Homo sapiens: one gene and its partner. The protein of the gene in region 2 purifies or fractionates together with the protein of the main gene of each other region. This does not show direct contact. Each region holds a gene or a part of one and is shown on either strand. Other genes may lie near its edges.

Region 1 (4,346 bases), about 140 Mb from region 2:
AAATGAAGTGAGAGCAGATAAGAAAACCAAAGTTGGAACCTCAAGCAATATCAAGGGAGGAGGTCAACAGAATTAACAGAGGAATGCAGAAATAGAGAACGTTGGGGAAAATAAAGGTGAGAGCCTGGGAGAAAGTAAGTGGAATAGAGATGATCTAAGATAAATACCAAATATATGTGAAGAAGTCTTTAGGGTTCAGTGCACTAGGTCTGATCATGTTAGGTGAATGGTTGAGTATCTAGGTGTTGATTAGGTGCTGTTAACCTTTTTAAGGCAATTTTGAGTAACACTTAGAGTACCATTTAGTTAAATGTGTATGCTTTTAAGGGTGCCTAAATTATGCCTAGTGGATTGACATACTGAACTGTCATTGTCTCAAAAGTTTGTGCATTTATTATGTGTTAAATTTAAAAAAACTTAACTCCTTCCCTTATTAAGCTATCATAGAAATTACATAGAGTACAAAATAGCAATACTCAACTGACTGGTAAAACAAGTCTTAAAAATTTGTAATTGCAATAAATTTAGTTTTAGATAAGTAAAACCATCTGTGATAATTTAATAAAGGTGTTATAAACCATTTAGGTAATAGCATAACTATCACATCTGGATCTTAAAGTGTGCTAAATCTATCCATTCAAAATCTTGCTTTTTTCCTTACATGTTGTGCTTTATTTTAATATCAGAGCTGTGTGGGGAGACATGATCTTGGCTTTCGGAGATTCTGTAGGAGAAACTCTTGCTTATATTGAAATGTGTCTGTCTGTCTGTAGATCTCATGGAGTCACCTGCTTTTTCCAAGTGTCCTGGTGAATCTTTATTTATTTATTTATTTATTTTAATGGAGAGAAGAATTAACAGGTTTTTGGGGAAAATATTAAAGACTGTTACTAATAATGTTGTGTAACATTGCAGAGAATTGGGAATGTGTTCTAAATTTCAGTAATTTCTCTAACCTTTTAATGGTAAGACATTGTCTAAGAAATCATGTGTTCTTATTTTTGTCTGATTAAAGGAGTGTTTTAAGATATTTGAAGTCATGTTATTTTCAAAGGTTTAGCAAGAAATTCTTACCAGCTTTTGCATATGCCTTTTAAACAAATATAATTATTGGACTTCAGTACTCACTGGCTGTGGCGATTGAATGTAAGGGAAGAATTAAAGCCAGTTGAATAGTGATTTAAGCCTTTCTAATTGATGCTGTTTATTAAGTGATTTTCTTATTTTTTATCTGTCTCATTTAGCCAGTTCATGTTAATAAAGCTTAATAGCCCAACCAGCGAGGCCTTTAAAGAAAATAAGAACTTACATTCTCTAAATGAATGTTGAGGATGACTTATTAGAAAGTTAGTTCACAAGAAGAAATTTGAGTGGGAATAAGAATTTATGAACTGACATTTCTGCTTCAATGTTAAGTATTCTGATGCTGCCTGAACTTTGTATTTAGATTTGGAATTTTAGGAATTTTATTATTGTTAGCAATCATAGAAAACTTGAAGTTTTTTGTTAGTTCTCCAAAACTTTTTCTCCCACAAATTCAGACCCTTTCGCCATCTCAAGCCAAAGTTCCCTAACAGTCAACGCCATGTATCTTATTTTCCTGGGGCTTGCCGAGAGCCAGGAAGTAAGCATAAAAGTTTCTGAACTACCAGACTAGCATTTACAGGGCTTACACAGTAAGGTTTATGTGCTTTTTTCCTGGGTACATGTTCCATATTGTCCAAACCAAAATTTGGAACATAAGGTAAAAATCCTGGATAGGGAATTGAAGTATGAGGGCCAGCTACCCTTGAAGTTTTATTTAAAGTAGAAGTGGTAAATTAGATATAACTGTTGTAATAGGCTTATTGTGCATTTGAATTAGTTATCATTGTCTTTGGCAGTTTGCAGTGCCTTGTTTAATACATTTGATTAAGTTCAACTAGTAGTTAAATGAACACAGTAGTAGGCAGTCAAATATTTAGATGAATTTTTTTTAGAGCTTAACTTCTAGCTGTGTAAAGTGTTCACGCCTAAAGTGGAATTGTAAGAGATAATTATAACAAAATAATATACTATAGTAACTAATCTAACTCTCCTCAGTTCTAAGGGTTGGTTTGCACACTGTTGTCACTTTCTGGGTTATCTTCTGTAGCATCTGCTTCTGCACTATTCTTGCTTTTCTGGAAAATGTATGCATGAGTTCATTCAACAAATACTTAGCTAGTACTTAGGCCCTGAGGAACAATGGCAAACAAGATAAGTAAGATCACTGTTCTCCCAGCACTTATATTCTAGTAAGGAGATTCAAAGGGATTTTTTAAAAATACCAGGAAATTTTAGGTGTGGTAAATGCAAAAAAGGGAATTAACAGGTGTTGGGATGGAGTAATTGGCAGTGGTGGCTGTTGCAGCTGCAAGGGCAGCACTAGCAGCAGCTGTTTCAGCAGTCCTGGCACCCCAGGGTTAAAAAGAGTCAGAGTTAGGTGGAGGGATGGAAAGCATTCCAGCAAGTACAAAGGAAGAGCTTGGTGAAAATAGACCAAAGAGATTAGAGTGTTGGGAATGGGGAGGAAAAATGAGGTAGGAGAAAGGAGCAGAAGTCAGGTGGCATAAGCCTGAGAGTTGGTAGGAAGAAAGTGCCATTTGTAGAAGGGCATTAAGCTGAGGAAGAGACATGCTGTGGTCTCTCTGGTTTCTGTGTTCGGAATAATCTATAGGGTGCCAAGAGTGGAAGTAGGGAACCCCTGTCAGAGGCTTGTGCAGTGGTTCACGTGTGAGATCATGAGTGGTAGAGGGGAAGAAGAGAAAAGTGCTTGGATCAAATATAAGATTTAGTAATTGGATGTGGAAATAAGCAAAAAAGGAGGCATCGGCTGTGACTCTAGACTGTTGGCTTAAGCCATAGGTGGGGAATTCTTGGGCCAGAAAATCAAGGGCTAGATATTGAACATGCTAGATACTGAATGAATAATAATAGCATTTCAAGTATTCAGTATCTAGCATGTTCAATATCTAGCCCTCTAAATTTGAGGTGCCTGTTAGATAGCCAAAGAAAGATGTCAAATAAGCAGTTGAATAAATGTATTTGAGGCTCTAAAGATAGGCCGGGTTGGGAGATAGCAGTTGGGAATCATCAGCATCAGCATATAGATCTCTTTTAAAGCCGTGAAACTAGAGATTGCCAAGGGAGAGGGTAGTGGTCCATACTCACTGAGAGGTGGTTAGTGCCGTTTTAGTCAATCTGTAGCTGGGTAATGATAGTGGTAATCTGAATATTCATGCTCTGTTGGTCCATATTAAGAAATTCTACTCTAAAATAGTTTTTCAAACCTTACTGACTCATGTTGATTTGTTGATTAAATTAAATGAAGGATTTTTCTAGTTATTATCATAGTCAGTGCTTTCCTTTAAAAAATTATTGACATTGGTTGCTTAGTCTAAGTTTAATGAGGCTTTTGGCTAGGCATTAAATTTTGGCACAGGCTGTCTAATCTATTATAGTATATCTTGGTAAGTTAACATCTATTAATTAATTTTCACAATAGCCAAATGCTTCCTCAGCTTCTCTTTTGTGAGAACATAACGAAAATTACAAAGCAAGGACAAAACTATTTAAAAACTCTTAACCCAGTATTCGTAGGCAAAAGATGGGGAAGGTAGGTATCAAAATATTAACACTAATGATTTTGAGCCATAAGATTATATTTGATTTCAATTTTCTTTAAATATGCATTTTCCATATTGTTAGTGTTTTCTTTATAACCTTTAAAAAGTAAAATATGTATTAAAATGCTGTCTAAAAATTAGTTTTACTTTATAGTTCAGTAAGTAATGATTTAAAACAAAATATTTGAGATTGTATATTAGGCTGGGTGTGATGGCTCACACCTGTAACCCCAGCTTTTTTGGAAGCAAGGTGTGTGGATTGCTTAAGCCCAGGAGTTCGAGACTAGCCTGGGCAACATGGTAAAACCCCATTTCTACCAAAAAAAAAAATAAAATAAATTAGCTGGTTGTGGTGGTGTGCACTTGTAGTCCCAGCTGCCTGGGAGGCTGAGGTGGGAGGGCGGCTTGAGTCCGGGAGGCAGAGGTTGCAGTAAGCTGAGATCACACTACCACACCCCGGCCTGGGCAACAGAGCCAGACCCCGTCTCAAAAAAAAAAAAAATCATGTCTAGACAGGTATTTGAAAGACTGATTTTGTTACATAAAGAGGAAAGGTATAAGCTGGGCACAGTGACACGTGCCTATAATCTCATCTACTTGGTAAACGGAGGCAGGAGAATCATTAGAGCCTAGGAGTCCAAGACCAGCCTGAGCAACATAGCAAGACAGCATCTCAAGAACAAAAAAAAGAAAAGAAAA
Region 2 (5,974 bases):
TCTCTACAGTTGGAGATTGGCACTAAGGGGCTATGAGGGAACCTCGTGAGGACTTGTCCTTCCCTTTGTTGGTCAGTGGCCATCTGGTGTCTGAAGAGAACCGCTGGCAGCTGCAGTGCCTCTGCTACAGCCAGGCTGTCCCAGCTGCTCACAGACCTCAAGCTCAGCCATCCTTCTCCCTCCACTGGCCTTGACCCAGACTTTCCCTGGCATTCTGACTAGGGAACCAGGACCCCTGCTCCTGGGGTCTGGACACAGACCTTCCAGAAACGCAGATGAAGAGCCCTGGCCATGCTTGTCAGGGGCATATCCTCACCCTGGCTCAAGAAATGGCAGGCTATCTGCATGAATCACAGCTGGGCCTTTCATAGTCAGTTCCACATTCTCCTCTCCCAACTGAACAAAGTTGAAAGGGACTGGGATCCCAGGCTAGGCAGGATGCTGTGTTGTTTGTGACAGCCACTCTACCCTCTGCCACCCCATCCCCCACTTCCCTGCCTTTCACAGCCTATATGCCTGGTTGGTACCCAGTAAACTTCACAGCAGGACTGATGTTTGGCATGTTTCCTGGCCTCTTCATGCCACTACTGATAGAGGAGCCACTATCTCTGGTCTCCATCCTGATGTCATGTGGAGGCCTACTATCTGTGGATAGAGTTACTGCTGACAAGGCAGCCTGAAGCTTTAAAGTGTATCCATGCCTTCAACAAAGATTGTTGCAGGCTGTCTAGTATTCTACATTGGTGCCCCAAGGTTCTGTGCCTTTGAGGAGAAATTCCCACAGAAAAACAGCTTGTTCGCCAATAGCTCCACAGCAGCCTAACACTCCCCTTCTTCCAGTAGAGAAGACCTAAGATGTGAACCTACTCTCCCTGCGCAGGCTACAGACTAAAGGCTAGACTCCGCAGTCTGCCTGTCACCTCCTCTCCCACTATATATTCCTACCTTGGTGTACCCTCTTCAGGCGCCTGGAGCTGCACCTCATTGCTGTGTGTGTGTGATTTGTGGTTGTGCACATGCTCTCCACTTTGTCAAGGACCACTTTTGTCAGCATACTGCTGTTCTTTCTTCAAGACTCAGCTTCTTCAGCTAGCCCTGCCCACTCTCGGCAGAGTCAGTCCCTTCCGCTTGTGCTCCCACATTGCCTCTTGCTCAAAAGTACTTACCATAACCTTTCCAGGCTAGGCGCCTCCAGCTCCTTCTAGGGGCGAGCCACCACCTCAGAACTCACTATATTTGCAAAATAAACAGCCCTCAGCATTGTAGAGGGAATGGCCCAAAATCTTAGACCCAGTTCAACGCTCCACTTCGCGGTAATCATCTTGCTCAAGTTTTCACCACAGCCTTGCCTAGCCTGGGCTACTCTTAGGGCAGGCTTGGAAGGAAGTGCAGCTTCCTGAATTAGCTGATGTTTGGTAAGTGGTGGTGGAGGAAAAGGGTGGGGCTTGAGGATATTATAACTCGGGTCACCCCTGAGTGTTGCTTTTGGTCATTGGGGTGCCTCATATTGCCAGACAAGAGCTCAGACCTGAGGAGAGTGACTAGCTTCTCTGTGTCCCAGGTAAGCACTTCGGTCTAATTACTGCCTGCTCCTTCCACAGCTGTCTTGTCCTCATCCCTCCTGTTTGGCTCACACCAGGGGAAGTGGACACTGGAAAGATTAAGCCAGCTGGTTCTCTTTCTTTGTTTTTGAGATGGGGTCTCTCTCTCTATCACCCAGACTGGAGTACAGTGGCACAGTCAGGGCTCACTCCAGCCTTGACCTCCTGGGTTCAAGTGATCCTCCCACCTCAGCCTCCGGAGTAGCTGAGACTACAGGCGCACACCACCACACCCAGCTAATTTTTGTTATTTTTTTCTAGCGATGGCGTTTTGCCATGTTGCCCAGGCTAGTCTCACATTCCTGGGCTCAAGCAGTCTGTCTGCCTCAGCCTCCCAAAGTGCTGGGATTACAGGTGCAAGCCACCACACCCAGCCTGCCAGCTGGTTCTCGATGGCAGCTCCCAACATCAGTAGAGGTCCCTGGGGTACTTTTCAGGAGGAAAACTCACTTCGTGTAGCCCATTCAGCTAAGGGAAGCCACGGGGCCCTTAGGCAAACAGACCCTGGGCTCTGGGGATACTGCAGTGAAGGAGACATGTCCCTCCCCACAGGGAATCTCAGTGGGAAGAGACAGAGCTGAATACATTTACCTAGCATATAAATATTAGGGCTACTTGGGGATTGCTTCACAGATTCTGTCATGTAAAAATGCTGAATAAATATTGAATGGATGAGGGAATGAATGAGTGAGTGAATGAATAAATGAACTAGCTGGGCCTTGAGAAAGACACGTGTGTAGCCCTTAGTCCTTTTCGAAGGTAATTGCCCCAGTTACCTCATTTTATCCTTGAAATAGACCTGCAGCATAGAACAAGAATTCCACACCCCTATTTGACAGATTTGGAAACTCAGCATAGGTATGTATGGTTTGGGGAGATTTATCAGAAGCTGATTTGTTGCTTTATTAAATAAAAAACTACCCACTCCCCTTGCTTCCAATTTTGGAAAGGCACATTAGCACATACCTATACCAGACCCTGTGCCGGCCATGAGTGCAGAGGTGATCAAGTTGGGTGGGGTAAGGAGGTGAAGAAACTAGAAGCAGAGCTATCAGTTTAGGAGGCTGTTGTAATAATCAGGCCGGAGGATGGTCTGGTGCAGTGTGTGGGAATGGGGAGGAGGGGATGCAGAGGAGAGCTCTTAGAGAGCCTGAGATCCAATTGCATAGAGGAGGTGAGGGTGAGGGATGCGCGCAGGCAGCCCGAACGGCCGTGTGAGTGAGCACACTTCGATGTCTCCAGTCAAGGTGGAGAACAGAAGAGCTTTGTGGGGGTAAGGTGATGGAAAAATGAGTATGGCTTTGTTGAATTTGAGGAGCTTCTCCACCATCCAGATAGTGATGTCTAACAGACCACTGGGATTTAGGATTTGGCTGAGGCCAAAGGTAGATTTGGGAGCCCTGACACAGCTATTAATGAAACCTTGGGAATGGGCGAGATAAAGGGAGTGTAGAGGGAGGGCATGACCGAAACTTGGGAACCCCATTGTCTGAAGGAACAGAAATTACTGATGAAGACTACGAGAGACTCAGGAAGGAGACCTAGGAGAGACTGGCCGTGAAAGCCAAGGACAGGGGGAATTCTGTAGCAAAGAGAATGACTACTGGCTTTGCATGCCTGAGAGAGGGCAGCAGAGGTGGGGACTGAGGAAAAGGCTTGGGATTGGGCAGTTAGGAGGTCACCAGTGACCACGTGGAGGGCAAATTAGTGAGCATAGTGGGAGTAGGCAAGGAGGGGAGTGTAGGGGTGGGAAGGTACTATATTTCCAGAAGTTCTGCTGTTGCAAGGAAGGGAGGTAAAGTGACTCAGTGGACAGATGTCTCTTCCCATATTGGGCCCTCTGCTGTGTTTCCCTTTTCCCCCACCCCTAAAGAGCACCTGACTCACTGAGGGCTCCCTTGGGACTATGGAAACAGCAATACCACCTCCAGCTCGGATGAGCGAAGTATCTGACATTTCTACAGTTCCTTACAGTGTGCAAAGGACCACTAACTCCTTTAATCCTCACAAGAACTGAGCTTTTCATGTTATAGAGGAAATGGAGAATCATAGAGTTTCAGTTCAGATTCAACTACATAAATCTGAATGCACATCTGAGCAAGTTCCTTTGCTCTCGTGATCTCATTTGCCCCACACAACCCTTTGATACATGTTGGTCCCATTTCACAGATGAAAAGCCTGGAGGTTGAGATGGGGTGCAGCTGCCTTGTGGAGAGCAGGGTTCCCACCTCTGAGTACAGGGCTCTTTCTGCTCTGCATCACTTCACTGTTAAAACCCACCTGATGTTTATGTTGCACACTACATCTCATAAAGCATTTCCCCAGGTGTTATTCTATTTAGTGCTCACAACAACCTTGTGAGGGTAGATATTATTTCCTCCTGTTTTATGGATGGAAGCTGAAATTCAAAGAAGTCATAAATGACGTCCAAGGTCAGGTCACTAGTGGAACCCCTTTCTGAAGCACAGATCCACCCCTGTCCATGACCCCTGTTGCCTTCAGGATGAAATTCATGTGCCTTAGCCTGGCACAATGGCTGTCCCTTTTCCAGCCTGCCTGCTTCTCTGGCAGGTCTTTGGTTCCCTCTTTGTTCCAAGCCTCTAGCATGTCCCTGACCTCCCAACCACAGCAGCATGTCCATCTATTACATGTGGCCATCTTGCTCACTGCCTGTGCTAATCATACTGTGATTGTTGATGAGACTGTGAGGTCCCTGAGGGCAGGGCCTAGGTCTGCTTCATCTGTACCACAACGTCCAGCATAGCAGGCATCAGGAACTGGTGAATGTCAATGAATGACAGAATTAACGAATGGCATTTGGACTGAAATCAGCCTTTCCAGTGCTCTCTCATTAGACATGCTTGTGAAAAACAAGGGCCTTCTGGTTGACTGCTACAGGATCTTTGATGGTTGGAGGTTCTGAATTCTGCTCCCAGCTTCCTTCCTGGTCCCCTTCAGAAGGAAGGAAGTTGGTCTGGGTTACAGACTCCTAGGGCCTATAGAGTAAATGGTTGACCCAGGTTGTCCCTTTTCTCCCATAGGTGGCCACCTTCCACTGTGGAAGCTCATGGACTCCATTGGGTCTTCAGGGTTGCGGCAGGGGGAAGAAACCCTGAGTTGCTCTGAGGAGGGCTTGCCCGGGCCCTCAGACAGCTCAGAGCTGGTAAGTTCAGCACTGGGTTCCTGTTTCATGCTTGTCTAAGGCCTTCAAGAGCAGCGTGACTGAAGCTGCCATGGGGCCCTGGGCTCTCACCCATGCAGCCCCTTTCCACTGAGCTTTTCATATCTGAGCTGGTAACGATCTCCTTTCATGCTCCAAACAACTGCAAGGTTGGGCTGATCATCTTACAGGTGATGAAGAGGGATATAGAGAAGTGTTATGACTTGAGTTTAAGACATGACAGGAGCTTGAGCTGAGGTGTTTCAGCTCCAAACATGTCATTTTTGCCACCTTGCCACACAGGTGCCGCTCCCGCCCCAAGTGGGTGACACAGTCTAGAGTGGACTTTCTCAGGGTTATCTGGTCAAAAGTTGTGTTCTTGAGACCTTTCCTTTCCCGCCTCTCCAGTTCCTCCTGCATGTCTCCCTCAATGTAGCCGCTACAATCAGGCACACAGACGATTTTAGTGCCAAACTCATGCCTGAGGCTTGCTCAGAAGTGAGTTTCTTCTTTTTCTGTCATCTTGACCAAGATTTAGAAGCTGTCTCATACCACACCCTTGAGCAGGAAACTCTTGTGTAAGCCATTTCATATCTCTTAGTCTCTGTTTCCTCATCAGTAAAATGGAGGAAAATAAAGTCTAATCCTCCCCACCCCCTGAAGGCTAATGGAGATAAAGGACTTGCCTATGGCCGGGCGCGGTGGCTCACGCCTGTAATCCCAGCACTTTGGGAGGCCGAGGCAGGTGGATCACCTGAGGTCAAGAGTTCAAGACCAGTCTGGTCAACATGGTGAAACCCCGTCTCTACTAAAAATACAAAATTAGCCGGCATGGTGGCACATGCCTGTAATCCCAGCTACTTGGGAGGCTGAGGCAGGAGAATCGCTCGAACCCGGGAGGCAGAGGTTGCAGTGAGCCAAAATTGTGGCAGTGCACTCCAGCCTGGGCAACAAGAGCAAAACTCCATCTCAAAAAAAAAAAAAAAAAAAGTCCGGGCGCAGTGGCTCAGGCCTGTAATCCCAGCACTTTGGGAGGCCGAGGTGAGCGGACCACAAGGTCAGGAGATCAAGACCATCCTGGCTAACACGGTGAAACCCTGTCTGTACTAAAAAATACAAAAAATTAGCTGGGCATGGTGGCAGGCGCCTGTAGTCCCAGCCACTCGGGAGGCCGAGGCAGGAGAATGGTGTGAACCCGGGAGGCAGAGCTTGC

The links. The genes of interacting proteins can lie anywhere in the genome.
Region 1: the proteins of HK3 (region 2) and NADK2 fractionate together in Homo sapiens (co-fractionation; one large-scale study listed by BioGRID). This does not show direct contact.

Annotation. Positions count from the first base shown.
Region 1 is NC_000005.10:36,228,426-36,232,771, reverse strand, and holds part of NADK2 (NAD kinase 2, mitochondrial), read left to right. Parts: intron 1-4,346. UniProt on the Homo sapiens protein: Mitochondrial NAD(+) kinase that phosphorylates NAD(+) to yield NADP(+). Can use both ATP or inorganic polyphosphate as the phosphoryl donor.
Region 2 is NC_000005.10:176,894,854-176,900,827, reverse strand, and holds the start of HK3 (hexokinase-3), read left to right. Parts: upstream 1-1,481; 5' UTR 1,482-1,561; intron 1,562-4,642; 5' UTR 4,643-4,668; coding exon 4,669-4,764; intron 4,765-5,974. UniProt on the Homo sapiens protein: Catalyzes the phosphorylation of hexose, such as D-glucose and D-fructose, to hexose 6-phosphate (D-glucose 6-phosphate and D-fructose 6-phosphate, respectively).